Regions from separate parts of the Homo sapiens genome. Here region 1 is linked to region 2. The links come from fine-mapping of genetic effects on gene expression. A gene starts in region 2. The other region holds a variant in brackets. All regions are shown on one strand. Distances are between the middles of the regions.

Evidence for each region.
Region 1: its variant is fine-mapped to the expression of PLAA in neutrophils (BLUEPRINT, PIP 0.95).

Annotation. Positions count from the first base shown.
Region 1 is chr9:27,191,624-27,194,536 of GRCh38, reverse strand. TEK (TEK receptor tyrosine kinase) reads right to left here. Exons shown (of 23, transcript NM_000459.5): 11 at 1,914-2,048. Among named protein-coding and RNA genes, the nearest start is that of TEK, 84 kb to the right of the region's middle. The variant C/G (reference allele first, on the strand shown) is at 1,150.
Region 2 is chr9:26,946,013-26,948,925 of GRCh38, reverse strand. It overlaps PLAA (phospholipase A2 activating protein), which reads left to right and starts at 1,684. Exons shown (of 14, transcript NM_001031689.3): 1 at 1,684-2,029. The coding sequence starts at 1,881. It also overlaps a transcript of IFT74 not described here. RefSeq lists enhancers at 1,361-1,670, 1,260-1,933, 1,931-2,190, 1,934-2,609.

The sequences.
Region 1 (2,913 bases), 250 kb before region 2:
ATGATGACATATCAGGGATCCCTTGGGTCATGGTTGTAGAGGTCCCTTTTTCCTCTCTATATAGTTTCTGGGTTTATTTTTTATATTCACAACCAGGTGGGTCCCCAAGCAGCCATTTCTTACTTGTGTGTAATGCTTCTATAAGTCTCAGAGTAGCTTTTGAGTCTCATTTGGTTCTTTAAGGATGCTGCTAGTAACATAAAAACTAGGTGGGTGGTGTGAAGGAAGGATGTTTCTGTTAAGGGTGCACAATCTCTGCAGAAGAAAAGTGGATGTTCTTCCTGGTTTTTTCACTCAATCATAACATATCCTTCTACTTTTAGTAAATGGAGTAAAACACAGGCAAATATGTGAACTGGGATAATAAGCTGGTGCCTTTGGGATTCTAGGTAGAAATAATAATTGGAGAAACAAAAGGATATGGAGCCTGGACTGGGAGTGGTGACTCATCCCTGTAATCCTAACACTTTGAGAGGCCAAGGCTGGGGGACTGCTTGAGGCAGGAGTTTAAGACCAGCCTGGGCAACAAAGCAAGACCCCGTCTCTACAAAAAAAATTTTTTGAAGTAGCCAGATGTGGTGGTGTGCCTGTAGTCCCAGCTACTCAGGAAGCTGAGGTGGGAGGATGACTTGAGCCCAGGAGATAGAGGCTGTAATGAGTGTTGATCAAACCACTGCACTCTCCAGCTTGAGTGACAGAGCAAGATCCTGGCTCTAAAAGACAAAGATATGAAGCCCGAAGATTTAGTATGGTGATGCATCTTACTGTTATTAAGTACTCTGAGTCTCTACTTTTCAATCTGTAAAATAGGGAAGATGATAATTCTTACTTTCCTAGGTGATATAAATCAAATATATATGAAGTTGAAAGTATAAAGTACTGACCAAGAGAGAGTAACAGAATGGTTATACACAGTGAACAATTCAAAGAACCAGGAATGGAACCTTACAAAAGATCACTCCAGTATTTCAATGGAGGGTACCTGGGTAACAGAAAGCTGGAGGTCAGGTTAGCATCAAGGAGGCTTCACAGAGTTAATTAACGCAATAGAAGGCCAGTCAATACCAAACACCACTGAGAAGTCCAGAAGTAATTTTACACATGTTATCTAGAACGTGTGGACCCAGGACCAGCAGCATCACTTGGGAA[C/G]CTACTAGAAATGCAAATTTTTGAACCCCGGCCCCATCCTCACCTCAAAACCATTGAATCCGAAACTCTGGGGACGAGGCCCAGAAACATCTTTTAACAAACTCTCTGAGTGATTCTGATGGACACTTAGGTTTGAGAACCACTGATTTAGAAAAGGGAGGTAAATATAAGAAATAGCTTAAGGAGATGAAAGTGGCTACCTATAGGAAGCAGGACTGGGAGGTGGAGGGTGGAGCAGGAGAATGCTGTTCTTTAGATAAAAGCTTCTTATTCTATTTGATGTCATGACTCTGACCATGAATTACTTTGAAAAATTGGAAATTATTTTTGAAAATAAATAAACTGGGACTTCTAAAATATGCCTGTGGCAAGAGCCTGGTCTGGGCCCTTAAGATGGAAACAGGAAGCCAGTGATAAAATGCAGGAGCTGAAGCTCAGCACAGTTGCTGCTGTGTAAATCCCAGCTCCTAGGGGAGGCCCTGCCTTCCTGAAGGCTCATCTGCTTCCTTCTCTGTCCCTACAGAGTGCTGCAGACCTCCTCCCCCAGGGAGACAGACCAGGAGTCCAACCCAAATAAAGGAACAGTTTGGCTTGAAGTTGCTAGCCTTCCTGTCACTTTCCCACCCATTCAAAAGCGAACTCCTGCCACCTCCATCCCCACCCACCCACTCACCCACCACCACCCTTCCTGGTCTTCCTTCCTCTTTCCCCTTCCTCCCCCTCCCACCCAGCTCATGAATAAATGCCTGTTGGCTTCCACTGACCGATAGAAGCTGTTGTGAAGCGTCTCACAGGTCCAGGATGCCCTTCCCCACCCTCTCCACGACGGACCAGTTGCACACAGAGTTCATATTCTGTCCGAGGTTCCAAATAGTTGAGTGTAACAATCTCATTTGTCACTGAGAAGAGAAAACGTCCAGGAAACTTAAGTTGGCATTCTCTTACATTCCTTAAGCCGGGGTTGTTGTTATTGCGATGTGAACTAATTTTAGGTTTTCAAAACTACGTCTTAGTGAAACAGAGAGGCAATTCCATCTTCAAGGCCTCATCCTTCCCAATATGAGGAAAATTAGGCTTTTGAAATGTTTCCAGGTTACAATGTACACATTAAAGTGTGTATTTCTGTGCCACTTACACATTTCTGCTCTGGTGCTTTTGTCTTTTCATTTGTAGAATAAAACCTCACAAATCTATATGGAATACCAGATTGGGGGAATACTCAATTAGAATAATTTAATTGCTACTGTTTTCAAGTATGTACACTGATTGCAATCAAGCTATCGAGAGAAAAAGATGCTTAGGAGGTTTGCTCAAAATGACCAGAAAACTGATTTGCAATGGTCATACTATTACAATGAAGCATTCTGAAGTCCTTGAAAATAGCACCCATAAACAAATGGTATCTGTCTCTTTTCTCCTTACCTATTTGCTTTAGTCAGCCTCTGTTTCTCCATGGATACTGCAAAGATAAATTTCTGCCTTATCATATGATAAATTCCTACTTGGTAAGAAAAAAAACTGGGATGTGTTTAACAGTTCTTAGAAGACCACTTTGTGGATGTCCACTTGTAGACAAAGGTGATGGATTATTACCACCATATGACAGCAAAAGACCTAGCCATTGATGTTGGAAACAGCAATTCAGCAAATCAGCCTGACATCCCTGGAATTCTGAATTTTGATAGAATCTACAATAGTATGTGAAGGACTCAGTAATAATACCATTTTATTCGGTCTACCCAGGTCAGCTAGTGTTATTCAGCC
Region 2 (2,913 bases):
ATAGAGACATGGAGAGCATACAGCATAATGTGTTCAGGGAATTGTGACAAATTCGAAATGTCTAGAGTAAGAGAGATAACAGAGGGAGATGAATCTAGTAAAACAGATTAGGGAGATTGTGTGAAAGGCCCTATGTAATGCTGTACTATAAGAATGGAAAGCCGGCCAGGCGTGGTGGCTCACGCTTATAATCCAGCACTTTGGAAGGCAGAGGAGGGCAGATTATGAGGTCAAGAGATTGAGACTATCCTGGCCAACATGGTGAAACTCGTTTCTACTAAAAACACAAAATTTAGCTGGGCATGGTGGCGCGCTCCTGTAGTCCCAGCTACTCGGGAGGCTGAGGCAGGAATCGCTTGAACCCGGGAGGCGAGGGTTGCAGTGAGCCGAGATCGCGCCACTGCACTCAGCCTGGCAGCAGAGCGACACTCCGTCTCAAAAAAAAAAAAAAAAAAAAAAAAAAAAAAAAAAAAAAAATAATGGAAAGCCATCACAGGTTGTCAAACAGAGAAAAAACAATTAAGTGTATATTTCAGAAAGATAATTATATTTTAATGTGTAGGATTGGCTGGAGAGAAGGGGTAGAAAGGCCAGAGAAATGTTGAAATAATTTAAGTAGGACTAATTGGTACAGATTTCTAACAGATAGCTAGAAATACAGATCTAGAGTTTGGAGAAGACAATATGGGAATACAGCTCTAGAAATAAGCCAAGTAGTAAATAATCCACCCAGGGAGGGGATATGATAGCAAAGAAGTATCAAAAGTCAGCATTTCAAGAATGATCTCCCAAACCAGGGGAAAAGTGATTCCAAACCTAGAGTAGGAGTTTTAGGAAGGGAGAAGTCAGAAAAGTGTGAATTGGGCTTAGCAATTTAGAAAGGTTTGTGGAAAAGTGTAGTTGGATGCGAGAGAATAGCGGATGGGAAGAAAACAAAGTAAGGAGACAGGTCATGTTTACCCTGGCACTCAATAAGGTCTGATAATGACTAGCAAGTAGCACCACGGGTGGGTGGGCGGCGGGGTTGTTAAAAATACGTATCTCAGCTCTAACTCAGACCTACTGAATCAGAATCTACATTTTAACAAGCCGCCAGAGAAAAGTAGTTATACCTTTAAAAAATTGACTTGGACCACCGTATTTGCTAAATTTGACAACAGAGAGTAGGAGATTCAGATAACTTGAAACGGAGGAATAGTTCAATGATTAATAGTTCCCAATTTGGCCTCAAGCTTTCTCGTTTTAATTGAAAAACAAGGTTAACTTGCAAAAACCTCGAGATTCTCAGGGAAAAGCAGTGAGGATGACCTAACAGTAGACACCAAACAACCTCACTCAGCCATTCCGCCATGCCCAGCGCGAAAGACTCAGGTTTAAAATATCCGGATTCGGCGCGCCGGATGTCCACGCCAGCTGGCGCGGCATTATGGGAATTGTAGTCCCGGCCCGCTTCCCGATTTACCACAAACTGTTGGGCCCGGAGTCGGAAGAGACCCGGGTTTGGGAAGGACCCCAGGGTCAGGCGTCCTGGTGGAAGGGCGGGCCTCTTTCTCTCTTGCTCAGCAGGGAGTCCAGAGCCCTGGAGGAAAGCCAGCTCAGCTCCGCATCGGCGTCGGCGGTTGGGACGCACACACTCTGCGTCATGGAGGGCTGAGGCCGATGATGAATTCCGGAGTGCCTGTCAGGCTTGCTGTGTCACTCGGCCCGCTCGGCGCGCCCCTTCCCAGCCGCCCTTCCGTACCGGCTCTCGGGCTCTTCCGGTCTCCGGCCGCCCCTTACCTGCAGGCTCTTCTCCCGCCGCGGCCCGGCGCTCTCCGAGTCGCCCCTGCGGACTGGTCTCGCACAGTGCCTGGGCACCGGGCGCCAGACAGACACTGGCCATGACGAGCGGCGCAACCAGGTACCGGCTGAGCTGCTCGCTCCGGGGCCACGAGCTGGACGTACGGGGCCTGGTGTGCTGCGCCTATCCGCCGGGAGCCTTTGTGTCCGTGTCCCGAGACCGCACCACCCGCCTCTGGGCCCCAGACAGGTGAGCGCTGGGAGTCGGGTTGCCCCGGCTGTGTTGCACGCTTCCCGGAGAGTGGAAGGAGAGTGACCCTTCCCTGTCAGTCCTGCCGTCTCTCTCTCCCCCCAGCCTTCCCTCTGCTCTCCGCTCCCTTCCAATTCTCAGACTATTAGAACTCTGTAAGAAACCATCGGGATTTAAGTGGAAAGAGCACAGGGTTGGGGGACCAAAGACCTGCCTTGTTGTGCTAACTTGACCACAGACGAGTCTCCTACCTTTTGGGCCTTCAGTTTTTGGACGATGATCTCCCAAGTTTCTTTTAGACTTGAAAATTTACTGATTGCAGTTGCACCCTCCGAAGTGAGGTAGTTTGAAGGCATCTGAAATGTCCTCTTTTTTTTTTTTTTTCGAAGAAGATGCTCTGTAGTCTTCTGTAAAATTTAATTTTTGAAGACTTTAGTTCTCAAAAATTGCACTGGTGAATCCTCTTTTCGTCCAGGTTAGAATTTTAGTCTGTGGTCTGTGCTGGTCCTGAGGGAGTGAAACCTCTCGGATGTTTTGTTTCTGTGCATGTGCTGTTTCTTGAGGAGAAGCAGCATCCATTGCCTTCAAAGGATTTATCAGAAGGGTTCACGAACCAAAAAAAAAAAGAAGAAAAAGGTTAGGAATCAGTCCTGATCGAGTTCACGGGTTCAGCCCTGATTTGGCTGGTTGTAACAGGATATTTAAGACCTAGAAGACAGATTGCAGTTCAGAGAAAGAAAAATTGAGGTTAGTTATTTTGTTATTTAGTAGGTCTCCCACTGCTAGAGATTTTAGAATTTGAGTCACCATCCATAAATTCAGTTGATAACTGTTGAGTGCCTCCTCTTTGTTTGGGATACTGGAGAGGAATAAAGACAGACAAG